Linked DNA regions of Homo sapiens: region 2 is linked to region 1. The links come from fine-mapping of genetic effects on gene expression. Tissue or cell type: whole blood. Region 1 holds a variant in brackets; the other region holds the start of a gene. All regions are shown on one strand. Distances are from middle to middle. Region 1 has its middle 110 kb from the start of LINGO2. Region 2 holds the start of LINGO2 (leucine rich repeat and Ig domain containing 2).

Region 1 (8,693 bases):
TAGTTCTTTAACTGGGTCACAGAATATTTATCACCTTAAAACACTATTCTTTGAAACTGCTAATCAATCAATTAACCACTGTTCACAGCTCTTTAGCTGCTACTTACCTGCTAGAAAGGAATTTTTCCAGAAAAGTTTCTATCCATTTTTGTTTATGACTGCATTTTTGTGCCCAGTACTTCTGGTTTATGTTAGCTACACATTTAAAATAAATGTTGTGAATTGATAAATGAATAAATGTATCTTTCAACCTGCAGGGAAGGAAGTTACTCTCTAATCTCTATGACTAGCCTGCAATAGTATGGCCAGATGAATAAAGTAAAGGTAATATCTTACCCACAGGCTAAAGATATTTTCATTGCTATAATTCCCCAAACTTTATTGTGCACCCATTAAATGAACCTGAATTTCAAAACCCATCTTTGCCTCAGGGTAAAAGCTAGTATCACAATAGTACTTACACAAAGTACAAGAATTCCAGCAGTTTTAAAAAACACTAGTCTAAAAAATAGAGAGTCAAACTGTCTTGCTTCTAATGCCAGCTCTGTCACATGCTAAATGATCTGGGGCAAGGTGCTAGGTATCTCTGTAATTCTCATCAGTAATGTGAGAAAATAATATTAGTAATGACTTCATAGGATTACTAAAAGATTAAATGTTAAGTACATACTAGGTATTCTGAACATATTATCTATAAATATTGTTATTTCACTTTAAACCCTGCAGAAATTATAGAGGTTGTTTCACATATTTACAAAAACAAGATTCTCACAAGCACTTCACAGACTACACCCTCCCTCCCTTTCCTCTGTGAATACCTATGTTAAACCACACTTTAGGTTTTCATCAAGAGCACCAGAATGCTCTTGATGATGCCTACCAGAGGTACTCCATTGTCTGCTAATGCCTAGACCAAGGATGCTAATGTCCAATGTTTGCTTATTTCAATATTAAGGGTGTTAATGACCTTCATTTATGAATCCCAAAACACTTTTTTTTTCTGAGACGGAGTCTCGCTCTGTCGCCCATGCTGGAGTGCAGTGGCGCGATCTCGGCTCACTGCAAGCTCTGCCTCCAGGGTTCACGCCATTCTCTTGCATCAGCCTCCGAGTAGCTGGGAATACAGGCACCCGCCATCACACCCGGCTAAGTTTTTGTATTTTCAGTAGAGACGGGGTTTCACCGTGTTAGCCAGGATGGTCTCGATCTCCTGACCTAGTGATCCGCCCGCCTCGGCCTCCCAAAGTGCTGGTATTACAGGCGTGATCCACCGCGCCCTGCCCCAAAACACTTTTTAATCTTTGGACAAAGGTCTAGCGCAGTTGTCTTTCAGACTAGAAGTCACGAATGTTGAGGCTATTCATATCTTACACTATCATTTTCTCCCAGGGAAGTCCAACTATAAGACATTTGATGTTCTTATTCACTTTTCTTAGTCCTTTATCCTAAAGTTTCAAACATTAACTCGTGAATCATGACTAGGAAGTATTTGAGAAAGAGATAATATTCTATGAGTATATTCTCTGCATTGGTTGGATTTCATCCATCGACCACGAAGCAAACATGCTTCAATTCTCTCTCTTCTTAGGAATTGTTTCCCTATACTCCCACATCCCAGAGTTATGCTCAGTAACTCATGCAGATAATAACTTTGAAATCTCCCCCACTACCTGTTCTTCAGTATTAGAGACTGAATGTTTGTGTCCCCCCACCAAAATTTATATGTTGAGACCCTAACCCTCAGTGTGGATGTATTTAGAAATGAGGCCTCTAAGATAATCATTAAGGTTAAGTGAGGTCATAATGGTGGGGCCCTGATCAAATAGGATTAGTTTCTTTATAAAAGTAAACAACAGAGTTTTCTCTCTCTTTACCTGCATACCCACCAAGAAAAGGCTATGTGAGAACATAGTGGGAATGCAGATGTCTGCAAGCCAGGAAGAGAGAGCTCTCCCCAGAGGCCAACCCTGTTGGACTTTGATTTGGAACTTTTAACCTCCAGAACTACGAGAAGATGAGTTTCTATTGTTGAAGCCATTCAGTCTATGGTAATTTGCTATGATAGCCCCAACTGACGAATACATCCATTCAGATATGGTAAAATTTGTCACAATTTTGGGGTAGACACAGCTCAATCTCAGTAATGGATGAGTCATGTGCCAATGACTCAATAAAATAGGAGCAGCTGAGATTAGGAGCAGAACATTGAGTTGGGAAAGGAGAGAGAAGCTTGGAAGAACTTAGAAATGCTTATTAGGGGCTCTTAGGGACGTGAGAAAAAAAAATGATGATTTGTAATGGCTGAAACTACTTACTACCATATCCTGAAGGTAAACACAATGTTCATAATATATAAACTGCCCATGTTTTAGAGAAAAAAAGTGGTTAGTAACCAAGTGCTGAGGTGGAGTTGAAGTCTGCAAAATACCACATGCTCTGAGCAGCAACTTGACTCAGAAGTTCCACCTAGAAACCGAAACCAAGTATGTTGCTTTCTCAAAGATAGACAAATATAAATGACCTCAAAAAGGATGACTTTATGCCAGTGAAACAGACTGTCCACTTTTATCAACTGTTTCCAACTATCCTATTAAGATCATATATGGGTAGTCAAGTGTTCTACAAAAAGAAATTAAGTTTGACAAACTTTCCATACTACTATATTTCCAAATTAAAGATTCATTTCCTGATAAATTAACTAGGACACAAATGCAAGTTTGAGAAAATTACTTTGGAGCAGATATGGATGTGAATTTATTCTCTTGAGTAATATTTATCAACTCATCTTTAAAATTGGTCATGATCCTGCATGTCAATAGTGTAAACTTTATAGTTCACACTATAGTTTACAGCAATTAAAAGGCATTAATATTTACTCTTCATGATATTCCTAGGGGAATTCTACAATAATCCCATTGAGGCTATTTTCTATACCTAAAGGTTATTTATCTATTTGATTTACAAATGGATACTCTTATATAGCTTCAGGCTTTATAACATTTACATCATTGGATAAAAACCCAAAGAAAAACGCAGCATCAATGACAGCAGCACATGGTACAATTTTAGATTTTGAAATGATCTATCAGTTAAGAGGCGTTGATTTATAAGCAACAGAAAACTCAAGCACAAAGTGGCTTAAAAATTAAGGGCATTAATTGGCCTAGGTAAATAAAAGTAAAGAGGCCAACCTTTGCACTTAATTTACTTGAAGGACCACAGAATATCATCAAGAGATAGCTTTTCTATAGCACTCTGCTTTACCTTCAGTAATATTACCATTATTCCCAAACTGCCATTTCTTTCAGTTACAAGTTGAAAAGTTATACATTTCTTCTTCTTTTTTTTTTTTACATCAATTAGGTAAGAAAGGCTCACTTCCAGAAACTTCCTGATAAGCCAGAAGATCCCTATTTTCCATCACATCATAACAAATATTTTATTTAGTCTTGTTGGGCCAAACTGAGTGAAGAATGACAAATTTTTCCCATTTTTTAGATTACTGCCATATGGAAAACATTTTGTAAAATATTTTGTTTCCGTTTCAATATATTCATTTAAAAATGTCGTAGTGCTAGAAATTAATGATGTTTAAGTATGAATTATGCATTATTGATTATGCAGAACATTTTTTTCTATCCCCTCCTTTAAAATGTTGCCACATTCATTAGCTGTCCAAGTTTTAAAAAATCACATGGTATCCATTTATTATTCTTCAATACATTTTTATATCTGCAATGGATTAATCAGGTACTGGTGAATATAATAACTTGAGAAGAATTTAAACATTGAAATGTTTCAGGGAGCACAGTGATTTAAAACCAACCAGGAGAAAAATTCCCTCAAAATATTGTTTTATATAATTTTCTGTCTATTACCAGAGAGCAAAATAAAAACAGTAAACAGCTTGTAAAGAAAAATAGAAAATATTTCTCTTTTGCTGCTCCTTTGAAACCACCATTATTATTAGTGTTCAGGTAAAGAAAGTAACACTTTAATTTTGGGAATGGTGGAATCCTTCATAAGTAAAATAATAAACTTTATCTCAGTTGTATGACATCTTATTTAGAAAAGAAGATTTCTTCAGTTCAAAGTATTATAAAAAGGTTCATTTTTGCATGAAAAGTGAAATTTAAAGTTAAAAAATTAGCAATTTGAACTAACAAATCACCAATTAGCTCATTTTAGTATCTTTAACAAATCCATAATGATGGAAAAATAGAAAAGATGTTATTTTTCCAAAAATTGTTCAGATTAGCTATGAATTACTATGCAAACCATAAAGCACTCTGAGCCTTAGAGTCTTCACCTATAAAATGAGGGAACATGATTAAATGCCCTTTAACCTCCCTTCCAATCTACCAATTTAGGTAGTAGCATTACCATTTTAAATAATCCTTTAAAGAGTGAGGGTTTCACCTCAAAGTATTTTCTAAATATATGAAATTCCCCTTTTAAGTTGCAAACCTTTGCTATCAACATTTACAAGAAATGCATTATTACTTTCC[T/C]GTCACACTAAAAGAGTGTGAGGTATCACCCACAACACCGTCCCCTGACTTCACAGCTCTGCCTGTAAAACATAGCACCAAATAGAACAGATCAGCACACATAGGCTTCTGTACCTTGGCTCAATTATCTGTAATTTTGAGACAAGCTTTGCTTCTCAAAATGAGGAAGATAGAAACGTTCCTGTCTATCTTTCACTGTTTTGAAGACCAAAAGAGATTACCATATCGATGCAAATGATTATCTTTGTGATGAACAATTTTGACTTTTCCTGATGAAAAGATCTAGAGACTATATAACATATATCTTCTTTAAGGGCACTTATACATTTATGATTTAAATCTTTCAGTTTACTGATTATTCTGTAGTCATTTTGTTTCTTTTCTAACTTGCTGCTTTGTCCTCTAATTGCATCAGCCTGGGATACAGTTTGTTTCTCCCCAAGAGTCTAGAAACCTGACCTTTCAAAAAGTGAAAGTGAAAACCTATAGATCTCTCTGTTACTTTAGCAAATTTGGTATTGCCATTAATTTTAAAACAATGGCTTCCTAGAGCAGGAAAACTTTTTTGTTGTTGTTTTTTCTTGAGATTCCTCCACTCCACTCCAGCCCTAGAAATTCTGATTGAGTATATCTGGGCAGGATAAAGGAAATTTCTGTTTCTCAAAACTCCCTAGTTAATTCTGAAATTGGTCAGTTTGGGAACCACTACTTTGTTCTCTGTTTTAGGCCTACTATAACATTTTCCTCCGACATTAATCACAACACATTCAGAGTAGATTTTCAGAAATCTGTAGAGAACTACTGTAACAATCTTTTTCAGGAAAATTTTAAAATGGTATATTAACTGCAGAGCTAAGACAGTTCAGGTAGACACTGAAAAGTGGGTGGCTGTTCCTCATGGGAAAATTGTTTTCCACTTTACTTGTAATCATTCACTGGTAAACACAAAGACTATCTTATAACAATTGTCATTACTAACTATAACATGAAAGTTCTCCAAATAACAAAAAGATGGCTGAGTAGTTAATTGGTATTATTGGGAAAATGTGTCTCGTAGACTAAATAAAAGCATAAAATAAACTGCTTTCTATAGAATTTCAAACTTTTCTCATGCCTCTGGAGTTTACCATAAACAGGACAGAAAAGTTAACCAAAAATACTATTATTGAAAAATAAGCTCAGTTAGCTGCAAGAATATAAGTTAAAAAAATACGTATAATTTTCTCTTTGAGGAGTTTTAAGACATGCATAGATTTCAAATTCCATTTATTATACCCAGAATAACTAATTATGAAAATGATATTTAAAATATTTGGTATCAAGTATGGACACCACCCCTTCCAAACTTAATATAAAACCCACATTTTTTTTCTTAGGTGTCCTAGATGTCTGTAGCCACTGAAGAATGTTTTTATACCTCTTTGTTGTCTGCTTGGGCTGCAAGCATAAGCCTCATGGTTGATATTGTCCTGCATCTACGCAGCTGTCTTATATAATGAGGAGTCTAATGTGGACAAATACATCTGCCACATAACCCTCTAGGAGACATAGCTTTGGTTCTCATTGAAATATTATACATCAAAGCATTCGTTGGTTAATCCATAATTCAAACCAGCCAGGAGTGCTACTCCAGATATTTCTGCAGGAATCTACATGAATACATGTGGTTGAAGAATCTGTGATTTTCCTTCAGAGGCACAACACTTCAACAAACATTCATATGTGTCCAATCCTAACTACCTGCTATGACATGAACTTGGATAGAGGGTTAAACACATTTTGTCAGTATAGTGTCCCATGATTGCTCTCATGTCACTTAAAAAGTTCAAACTCCCTATGAGAAAGACAAGTGGTACAAAAACCACTTGGATTAGCTGTTCTGGTGATTTGCACTTAGTTCTCCAACTTTAATTTTAGGAGAAATAATACAAAACAAATTGCACAGATCGTTAGCATTTTCCTAGCCATCTTTTAATAATTTTAGCTAACTTGCAATTTATATTAAAGCTTCCAAAGCATTTTGATTGGATGGAATTATCTTGTTTTTGCCACCATAGAATAAAGAATAGCAAGTTGAGTAACCTTACAATCAAAATGCAACTCATATCGAAATATCCAAAATGTAGTTAACATTCTGGCTGGTGGTGGGAATATCCCCAAAGCAATCCTGTATATATTTTATTTTTTTAATTGACAAACACAATTGCATTGCATATTTCTCATGTACAACATTTAATCACATTCTGAGCTATGCCAATGTCCTTGTGTCTTACAGATCCTTATCACCATGTCTATGAAAAAAATAAAGACCATTAGCACCCTCAGCATTTTCGTCCTTAAAAATTAAGCAACTTCTGAAGACTTCTAATATTCCAGCTCTGTATCAGTTGAGCTGATGATGATGTTCTGAGATTATCAGAAGGAGACTATTTCTTTAATTATATTTGCTATTCCCATGGCCAACCCTGGCCTGAGATATGTGAATGAGGTCTTCTCAACCCCTCTCCCAGATCCAAAAGTTGGCAAGAAGCATGTGTAAAAGTCAAAAGGCCATATATTTCATTGAGCAGAGGGCAATTACAAGGACCCAAATGAGTCCTCAGGGTCACAGCCATTGCTGGGGGAATAAAGATTCCGAAGGTGCCACTGGGGCTTGGTGCTGAGATCCCTGAAGCTGCCATCCCAGCCCTCAGTGAACCCTACACCAGGAGCCCAAGCCACCTGCAATTGGTTGCCACCCTTCTTTGAACCAATAATGTCTCCAGAAGATGAGTTTATGCTGAAATATTTTAGCCTGAGCTATAAGCCCTGTTTTTAGAGTCAGGAATTAGGTTTACCAGAAAGGATCCCCAAATGAAAACTAGGACTATTACCAAACTTAATGGAGTGGATGAGAGGGAATAAAATGATTTCTGCCAAAAATGGGTTATTGGTTTATGATTGAGCTGAACCTGGTATGGTATACTCAGGAATTTTCTCCTGCCAGTGCCTACCAACATGCTTTGTAATACCTCGGTTGTCTATCGTTGAACAGCATCTTGACCAGACCTCCTATCTCATCTCTTTCTACATCCAGTGAACTCTAAAACAAAAATTCTGCTTCAAATCTGGCTCACTGCTCTTCCCCTCTTGCTCGTCTCAGGCCCGCCTCATGGCTTGTAGACCTGCCTGTGGGGAAAGGAGTTGTAGAGTTGGTTTTACTTTCCAATTAACTTTTCTGTTCCTTCCCACCTGTCTTCTACATCCAGCATTGGGAATATGAATAGGAAGAGAGCTTTGAAGGAAGAAGGACAAAGCATATGCTATGTGTCAAATGTTTTGTTTTTGTTTTACTTTGTTTTGTTTGTTTTGTTTTTACAATGTGGCTCTCGGTGCCCTCCAACACAGTCGTCATCCAAAAGCTAACTTTCTATTTTAAGGCCCATTTGTGTGTTTTTTGGAGTGTCCCCCTTCCCTCCCTCCCTTAAGGGAGTTTTGCACTGTCCCCTTCTCTAACTTTTTGATATATTACCTACCTGATCACTTATACCCTGCTCCATCTCTTGTCCCTGGCAGAAAACTCTTAGCTTCTTTCTGCTAAATCTCACCTCATTGGCCAACCCACTTGGGTGAATTTCAAGACAGCTGCTATTCCAGGTACTATGTAGCCCTTAGGACCTCACACTTCCTTTACTACCAAATAAAGCAATTATAGACATTTTTGTTGCTGGATTTCCTTGCCTTATCCTGCAAAAGTAAGACTACTCCAGCCAATCTTTTACCTTTGAAACTACCTAGGCAAAATTCAACCACTAACTTCTAAATTAAAATTAAATTAAATTAAATTAAAACTTAAAATTCTAAATGTTGGGGAATAAGAAGTCTCTTGCATTAATCACCAGTTGCAACATAGTAAGGACTAGGAAATTACAATTTAACAAGCATCTAGTCCAAAAATAGAATACCTGTACACCTTCTTGCAGTCAGCTGAATTATTTGGAGTAATTTTAGGGGGCTCCTTCACTAAGCTTTATTTGGGAAGAAAGAGGGTACACCTTTCTTTCTCTAGTCAGAAGGAAGGGGAAATCCCACAACTTCTTCCTCCTATCTATGAGTTTCCTCCAAAGAAGGTTTTCTCAAAAATCTCCAGTCTTCTGTACATATTGTGTGGAGATAGGCAGTGAGAGCAGCTGCACTGGCTATATC
Region 2 (8,693 bases), 110 kb after region 1:
AAACGTTGTACCTTCTTCCCACCCCAAATTCATGTGCTGAAGCTCTAACATCTAATGTGGTGGTGTGTAGAGATGAGACCTTTGGGAGGTAATTAGGGTTAGACAGGTCATGTGAGTGGGACCTTCATGATAGGATTAGTTGCTATATAAACTGTGGCTGAAATGTCTCTGTTTCTTTTTCTCTCTTCCCCCCAACACACACTGAGAAAAGGCCATGTGAGGACATAGTTAGAAGGCAGCTGTATGCAGGCTAGGAAAAGAGCCATCACCAAGAACCAAATTGGCTAGCATCTTAATCTTGGCCTTCCAAGAACTGTGAAAAATGTTTCTCACAGAACTCCAGAACTGTGAGAAATACATTCCTACTATTTAAGCTACCCATGCGGTGGTATTTTGTTACAGTAGTCTGAACTAAGAAACCCCTTTTTGCTTCTTTCCCTCAAGGTCTCTCCCTGGCAGGAGTAAATGAGCAAATGTATTGCAGGCCAGGTTATTTCACAACTTTCACCTACCCTTTTTAAAAACAACAACAACAACAGCAACAAACATCTTTTTTAAGTAAAAGGCGGAGATACATCTGTTATACTTTTCTTTCCATGCAACCCCTCAAAGGCACTCTTTTATTTTATAAGGTAAAACTTACACACGGTTCCAAAATCAAAAGAACATAAAAAGTCTAACCTCTACCTTTGATACCATCTGCCCACTTACACCATGACCCCAACCAATTTTATTAATTTTTGGAGACAACACCTTGCTTCACCTTGCAATTTTCACCTAAAAATATCATGGAGACCTTTTTATACCAATTAAGGAGAATTTCCTCATTATTTTACATAGCAGCTTAATCTTCCATGATATGGATATTTTGTATTTGTACTGTAATGATCCAAGGTATAAAAGATGTTTTATAATATGAGCTGTTGAAATTGACAACTATAACACATTTCTATGGCATGTTCCTATGTCATTCTGTATTCAGTGTTGTCTGTGTTCTGAGGCTTTTATTTTTATTAGTTTTAAAATTGTGGCAATTAGCCAACATGAGATCTGTCCTCTTAATACATTTTTAAGTGTATAATACAGTATGGTTAATTATAGGCACATTATTGTACAATAGATCTCTAGAATTTATTCATCTTACACAACTGAGATTTTATAATAGCCTCCTCTGTTTTACATAAGAGTATCAACATGGAAGTAAACAATAAAAAGTTTTCTATATCCATAAAATTCCCAATGGCCTGACTCCCCTCTCTGAAAGGAAACCCATAACTCAGCATTTGGCATTCCCATGAAAATAATGCCAAGAAGACACTCTCCTATTTTAACCCAATAAGAGAAGTAAACTGGTCCTGTGTTTTGATACTCAAATAGATATTGACTCGATTGCATGAGAGGTAAGGAACTCATTTTTAAATTTGCCTCTTTTTAGCATTAACAACATATAAATTCCTTTTAGCCTTGAATAATTGAAAATGTGGGGACCTGGCTATTTGAACAGAGCAAAATGATGAATAGTGCAGGCTTCAGAGTCAGAAAGATACTGTGTAGGTTCCATACTTAATTGTGACAAAACAGATTTGTCACCTTAGGTAAATTTGCATAAGCCTCAATCTCCCTGTAATTTGAGGACATAAAATTTAGGTAAGCAGGTTGTAAACAGGATCAACTGATATAATGTACATAAATCACATTACATAGTCATTAAGTCATTACTCAATACATGGTCGCTTTCATCATCATCATCATCATCATATACATCTATTTTATTGTGTACTAGATTCTGTATAGATTCTGGGGAACAACAATGTAAATGACAAGATCCGTGCTCTCAGAGCTCACAGTACAGTAGCAAAGGCATACCAGTAAAGAAAGAATAGCTTTTATCTATGAAAAGACAGTACACCAATAGACTGAATGCTATGCTCTAGAGAAGTAAAAGGTGTTCTGAAAATGGCAGTTTGTAGAGAAATGATCTTAAGGAGGGAAAAGGATCAAGATGTTTCCATTGGAAGAGATATCATATATTTCAAATTCAATTATCAGAAAACATAAATACATAGACAACACTGGAATAATGCTGTAGTTATTTTAATTTGGTGGTGAAATCAGATTCTTGGATCTGACAGTATCTTTGAGTCTCAATAGTTTCTTTTCAATTCCATAGATAGACCTAAGGGTAGCGGGAATGGGGTACATCCTCTGATCCTGAGGTTTGCTCTCCTTGTTTGTTAAATAATTTCCCCCATAAAAGCAAAATGTAAAAGGCGAGGGGGAAAAGGGTGATCCTTATCCTCTTCCATTTTTTGAACAGGATCCATAAATCTACAGGTTTTTATTATTTTTTTTGAGGGTGCTTAAATGTCAAGAATATTATGCTATGGATTACCACTACTGCATACACATCGCATACATCAAAAACTCAAAGCAAGTAAAAAGACTTCGCCATGGCTGGTACAAGACTTTCCACAACATTTCCTACCACTGTAAGGCACCCTTCACGTATTAAAGTTAATGAATATGTAAATAACCTATGTTTACTTTAAACAGAAACTTCAGTTGCAGACAGTGGCCTGCATACCAACAGCAACCAAGAAAGGAATTTGAAGTCACAACCTTTTTGGAGAGGAGTCGCTCTAAATTCTGAATTTTCTTGAACCAAGTGAGTCTCTTCATTACAGCTCTGCAATTCATGCCTAATAGTCTGCAGAATATTTTATTGGTAATTGATAGGCTTATACAATCAGAAATCATAAGTTAAAGATGGCCTTTTGTTGGAAATAGTTTATTATAATTCTTATTCCCACTTCATTATCAGGAACAGTCATTTATTAATTAGGAATAAGAATTAGAACTCGAAGAGGCATCAAATATTGCGGCACGCAGACAATGTATAGATTCATACCAGGTTCCAAAATACTGCCGAACATCCTCCTCTTGAAAGGCTGCAAAAGAGTCACTGTCGAAGATACATTTTAGGACATCAAACCTAAAAACTCAATCCTGGCAAACTAATACACACGCAAACAAAATGCCTCTTTTTATTCCTTAGCACCTCATCACCGATTTCATTATTCACTTCTTCAGGCAAGCTGCGCGGGTTAGCTTCAAGCTCTTCCCTTAATTGCACCAGAAGTTAAGTCTGGGCGTTGGACATACACACTCTAAATCCTTACGCGTGGGTCTGTCTGTGAACAGCCCGGAGCAGCGGAGCAAGTTAGTGGGAGGGTATCGCCAACTGTCTGCTCGCTCCAAGTGGCAGCCTTCATGGATCCATCACCCCTAAACCCACAGCCCCTGTCACTGCCTCTGCACTGAGTCGGCTCAAACAGAATCCAAAGCAGGTTCATCCCTGAAATTCAGACTTGCGCCTGAAGTTACCGGTCCGGAGCCCCTGGGAGCCGCAACGCTCACTGTGGAATGCTCTGGATCGATTTCAGAGCTGTGAGTAGCGCTGCTAGAGGTCATCCTACAAGTTTCATCTTTTGTATTAAATCTTCACTTCTGCGCTCTGCGACTCCACGTTTGCCGCTCAGGAACTCGGTTCCCGGCAAAGTCAACCGCCTTCCAATTTGGAGAGGGACAGTCAAGAACTCCCTTGATTTTGAGGAGATTCTCGATGGAGACGGCGGCGGTGGGTGGCGGAGCGGAGCATCCAGCGCCAGAGCAAAGGAACCTGGTGCCATCTCCAAGCTGGGCAACTTTGCGTTTTCCGCTAGCAGGTCCGAAGCCATAGATATTCGCGAAGCCCCAGAGGGCAGAAATCCTCAGCAATCCTCTGTCTCACAGTTGAAAAGGCAGAGTAGCGCTCTGTTGCAATAGAAACTACGCGGAGCACAAATGCAAGCTTTGGTTAAAAAAAGCACAAAAAACAAAAAAACAACGGGCAAAAGTTTACTCTCTGTAAGCAATTAATTCCTGCAGCCCATTCCGGGTAAAACAAACTCCTCTTGGGAAGCTCCTTTCGTGGGAGTTGTGGATGACACGGGGGCGCTTCTGAGAGCGAAGTCTCTCCTGCCTGGGACGCCCCAGCGGTGTAGCACCCAGTGATCCCTCCCGACCGTCGAGGGAAGAAAAAGAAGTTGGGACAGGAGCTAGCCAGAGACCCGGACAGCTACTCCTGGTGCAAAACCTTGGAAATGGCTGCTAAAGGGGTTGGGTCTCCAGACTCCTAATCCCTCCCCTTTCTCCAGCTGAGCCGTTCACCTGCTACCGTCCAGTTTACAATATAAGCGTAGCACCTAAATTAACCCAGTTCCAAAAGCTAGGCACTACAATTCCCTAAGAAATTCATTTTCAAAACATCTAAGCGACTTTCGGGAGCTCCTTGGGGGAAATGTTACGAAGGGAGTGGGCAGGTAAAGACGGGATGCGAGGGGATTATGTTCACGAAGCGATGTGTAGGCTCCTCTATTCGAAGGACCTCGGGGAGCCCCTCAGCTCCCAGGAGAGCTGCTGCAGCCACTTCAATTCTCCACTACAGAAGGGGCGGAGGTGGCCCCTGGAGGGTGGCGATGGGAACGGGGCTCATCTTTAGTCTGGTGGCCTCTCGCTGGGTGTCGAGGGGGTGTAACTGGCTTCAAGAAAAGAGCTAGGGAGTTGAAATGCCAGACAGGGCAGAGAACGGAGAGGTGGCCCAACGGACTTAACGGCGTGCGGCGAGGAACTGCCTGCCGGCAATCCGCTAACTAGTGAGGATTGATTGACTCTTTCTGTCATCAGCATCCTTGGAACCCCTACCCCTCCTCAGGACTCCCGACTTTTCGCTCGCCACTGGCCGGGGGCCGCGGGCGCAGGGCTGGGCGTGCGTGTGTAGCTGCGCGCGCGCGGGTGTGCGCGCCTGTGTGTGTGCGCAGCCCGAGCTCTGAGCCCGGCTGCCAAGCCCCAGCCGGCTATCCTGCGTCCCGCCTTGCAGCCGCCTCCTCAAAGCCTCCTCACCTGGCGCCGCCGCCCGCCGCCCGCCCAGCCCCGCACCGGCGCTGCCTCCCCTGAAAGTTTCCCCAGCGTAGACACCTTCGCGCTGCAGCAGCCCAGGGAGACGGTGTTCCGAAGCTGTGCCTTGGAGTGGCTCTTCTTACACCTTTCCGCCTCATCCCCACCTAATTCGGGCAGGGAGTAGAAATTTTTCCAAATTAAGGGGAGAAAGGGGGGAGGGGCATTATCGAGAGAAAGCAAGAGGAGCGGCCGCAACTGAGAATATCCTGCCTGATGCCAGGGAATTGACTGACGTGTCTGTGGGGTTACGGAAGAAAACTGAATAGGCAGCCAAGTTGGCCCAGGAGGGGCTGGGAGGCTTCCGGGTGCCGGGAAGGTGGTCCCGGTCTCCATTTCCACTGGTACGAAGGCTTGGAGGCGCCTCTATGGTGAGGGCTTTTGAACCGCCATCCCCTCCTGATCCCTTGGAAAGGAGGAGCCTTCAGAGCTGAGGAGGGGGAAGTCCAGGAAAAGCCCCTGGACTTGTGTGCGTCGCATCCTTGGCTTGGGATTTTAAGGACACGAAGGAGAATTAACAGCGCCTCAAGGTAAGAGGCAGCAAAGCTGCTGCTTGAATTGCCAGAGACAATAACTTAAAATAGATGTTGGGGATGGGGTGGGGGTTAAGTCAAGTTAGGAGGATCTCTCCGGGCGTCGCTACGCGATCGCACGACCCGCCTGGCAAGTCAGGGAGTAGCCGGTGCGGCGCTGCCCAGCTGCGAGGCAGGAAGCCAGAGGAGTGTCCTGTCCTCACACTTTCTGAAACCTATTGGAAAACGATTTCGGACTGGGTTCTCTGTGGAGGTTGATATACAGCGTGGATTTGGGTTTTGGGTTTTCGTTTTTTTACCAGAGAGGTTTTTTTTTTAAATTTTTATTAGCACCGCAGACCCACCCCCAATTGCCATAGAGAGCTGTGGGCACCGGTGAACGCAACTAGGACGCGGTGGCAGGTGAGCCTGGCGCAGGTGGGCAGGTGGGGGCGGCGGCGGCACCCGGCCTGCGGACTCGGGGGCGCGCGAAGCCCACGCTGCCGCTTGGCCGGCTCCCTGCAACCGGCGTCGGAACCTGGGCGCCGCAGGTCGCCTGCTGTTCCCTTCGCCTCCGCTAGAGGCTCCCAGCGGGCGCCGCGGAGCGGGTGGGTGTGGGGGCGCCAGGAGGCGGCGGGGTGAGCGCGGAGAGCCAGCGTGCTCGCGGGGTGGCGGAGCCCGCGCGGCAGGGGCGGGGGACGTGAGCGGCAGTCCCGGCGCGCTTCCGAGCTCCGCACCGCGCCGCGGGGACGCAGGTCCGAACCCGGCTGAGCTCTGGAAAGCTGTGCCTTGAACTGGAGCCACTTCGGGGATGAGATCCTGACCCGCACCCTGAGGGCAGCCCCGGGAGGTAATGCCCTCTTTCTCCTCCACTCTCCTTTCGCCTCTTGGTTCTCTGTAAATTCTCAGTCAGATACTCAGGGTGGGAGGGAGTGAAGGGTGAGAGAGAGTCTATAGGGTCTGTATCTAAAAAAGGTGCCTTTCAGTGTTGCTCCGTGGTGCTCTGTTGTATGTGTATTCGAACTAATGCCCAATTTCCCCCGCCTCCCTTGAATATTTGGCTGCTTTAAGGGAAGTTTTTTGCGGAGAACGCTGGGTGGTTGGTCTGGGCCAGGCTGCTCCGAGGTGAGCTAGGGGACCTGCTGTGCCCGCTTTGAGCCGCAGTAGACTGGAGTGCAAGACTCCAGGGATGGGGTGTGGTGGAGAAAACGAGTACCACACCCTCTTCTTTTCCTCTTCACCTGCTGGTGAAGTCTCCCCATTCAGCATTTTGCTGATTTCCTTTTCCGAGGGATTGGCTCAGAGAACTGAGGAAAGCTGCTGAAATACTTGGAGGGAGGGAGGGAGAGAGAGAGAGAGAAGAGAAGAGAAGAGAAGAGAAGGATGAGAAGGAAGTCATGGTCTGAGCATCAGAAGAGGAAGGAGGGCGAAGTTAAGCTTGTGTGTTTGAGGTGGGGGAGTGAGTGCTGGGAAATGGCCTTGGAGTTCAGTTTATTTGATGAAGTCAGATTCACTTCACATTTCACACTTTGACATAATCCAGTTTGCTGAAGCCACCTAACAGATATTATCTGTGCTGTGTACTGCCTTGGGCTCAGTGGGCACTGAATATGTTTGATGAGTGTGTCTAAGCAATAGATAAATAAATAAATGAAAGAGTGCTTATTGTGTTTGCTTGGTGTGATTACCCCCGTGTCTGTCAGCCGGTAATGTATGTATTTTTCAGCGTGCTGTGCTGTGTTTGTGCATACCATATGTGGTCATTTTACACTCAGTAATGCAGTTTCAGGGTCTTGGAAAGGTGGCTCTTAACAAAGACGAATATTTAGAATAATACTAAAGGAAGACCAAAAATTACCATCGGGTGTGGAATATTCCAGGAATACTGAATAGAAGCTGAGATCCATCATTGGTGAAAATATTGGGCCACATACTGAAAGGGCAAAAAATATTTTTCAGAAATTAGAAGCAGTGGTTAACATTTTAAAAGAAGGAGATGTTCTTTAGGGTTCTGTCACCATCACCCAGTAGCATGCGTTACTCCCAATACAGTTGGAGTGTGAGGAAGAAAAAAAAATGTACTTCCTGTTCAAAACCAGTAAAATGTTTTGAGATCTGCCAGGTATTTCACCTTAAGAATTTAAATGGAATGGATTGCCTATTGATGGCAGAAGTGGTTTAGTTATGTAAGGCATCTATTATTTTTGATTAAGGTACATATATGTTAATATTTTTATATAATTTTACTGTAGTGGGAATGGAAGCAGGACAATTTATTGATGTTTTTCATTGCTGAATAACACATAGCATTATCTCAGGGAAGATTTATATAAAGTTTGTCATTCATGTATTATAGTGGATGATGCTCTGTGTGGAAGGCAAGAATATATATCTTGATGAAGTCCCAAAAAGGATCGTTTGTGTTCTTAAAATACAGTATTTTAGAAATTTTTATGGTGTGAAAAAGTGATACTCATCTGAATATAGGTACAACTTATATATACACTAATCATTTATTTGTTGAATTAAATTAACAAAGACATACATATTTAGGGCTCAAATGTATTTCTGAAAGACACCTCTAAAACCAAAGGAAGATCTGCTATTAAGACTCTGTGTATATGATGTATAAGGGAAGTTTTCTTTCTTGACATTTAATCTAATTAAACTGGTGAGGCTGGTTTGTAATCTCGAGTCAGTTTTAGGACTCCATCTCTAAAGATGCTTTCCTCTCTAATAAATGTGATTTTAAAAGAGACCAAACATTAAAATGTTCCACAGCTGTCATGGACCAGAAAACCATTTGAGTCCTCTGCAACTTCATGTCAAGAATAAGAAGTGATAGGAAGTTGTCACAAATTAATTGGCTTGATACTTCAATTAAAAACTGATTATGATCTGGCTCTGGTAGTCATTATGGTTGATTTCGTTTGGTCTCTAGATATTCTGTGAAAGGACTCTAGGTGGAAATGTTTTCCTGTAGTACAAGGAGAGGAGGTCACTATATGCAAAGAGGTTTGTCAGTTACTGATTCTCCAATTTGGTTGTGTTGTATCCTTAAGGAAGCATGTTAGATTGAAAAAAAATCCATTTTCTCAATTTATGTAAATATTTCTCTTTGTCATAGCCCTCAACCAACCTCTGAGTACTGTATTTATAATTTTGTTGAAATATGTCACCAAGCCT

Evidence for each region.
Region 2: LINGO2 starts here. The variant in region 1 is fine-mapped to the expression of LINGO2 in whole blood (TOPMed, PIP above 0.99). The same link has a PIP of 0.9 or more in blood mononuclear cells.

Annotation. Positions count from the first base shown.
Region 1 is chr9:29,316,192-29,324,884 of GRCh38, reverse strand. It overlaps the pseudogene PDK1P1. Among named protein-coding and RNA genes, the nearest start is that of LINGO2, 110 kb to the right of the region's middle. RefSeq lists an enhancer at 2,440-2,529. The variant T/C (reference allele first, on the strand shown) is at 4,509.
Region 2 is chr9:29,209,754-29,218,446 of GRCh38, reverse strand. LINGO2 (leucine rich repeat and Ig domain containing 2) reads left to right here and starts at 4,846. Exons shown (of 7, transcript NM_001258282.3): 1 at 4,846-5,525. RefSeq lists a silencer at 6,206-6,255.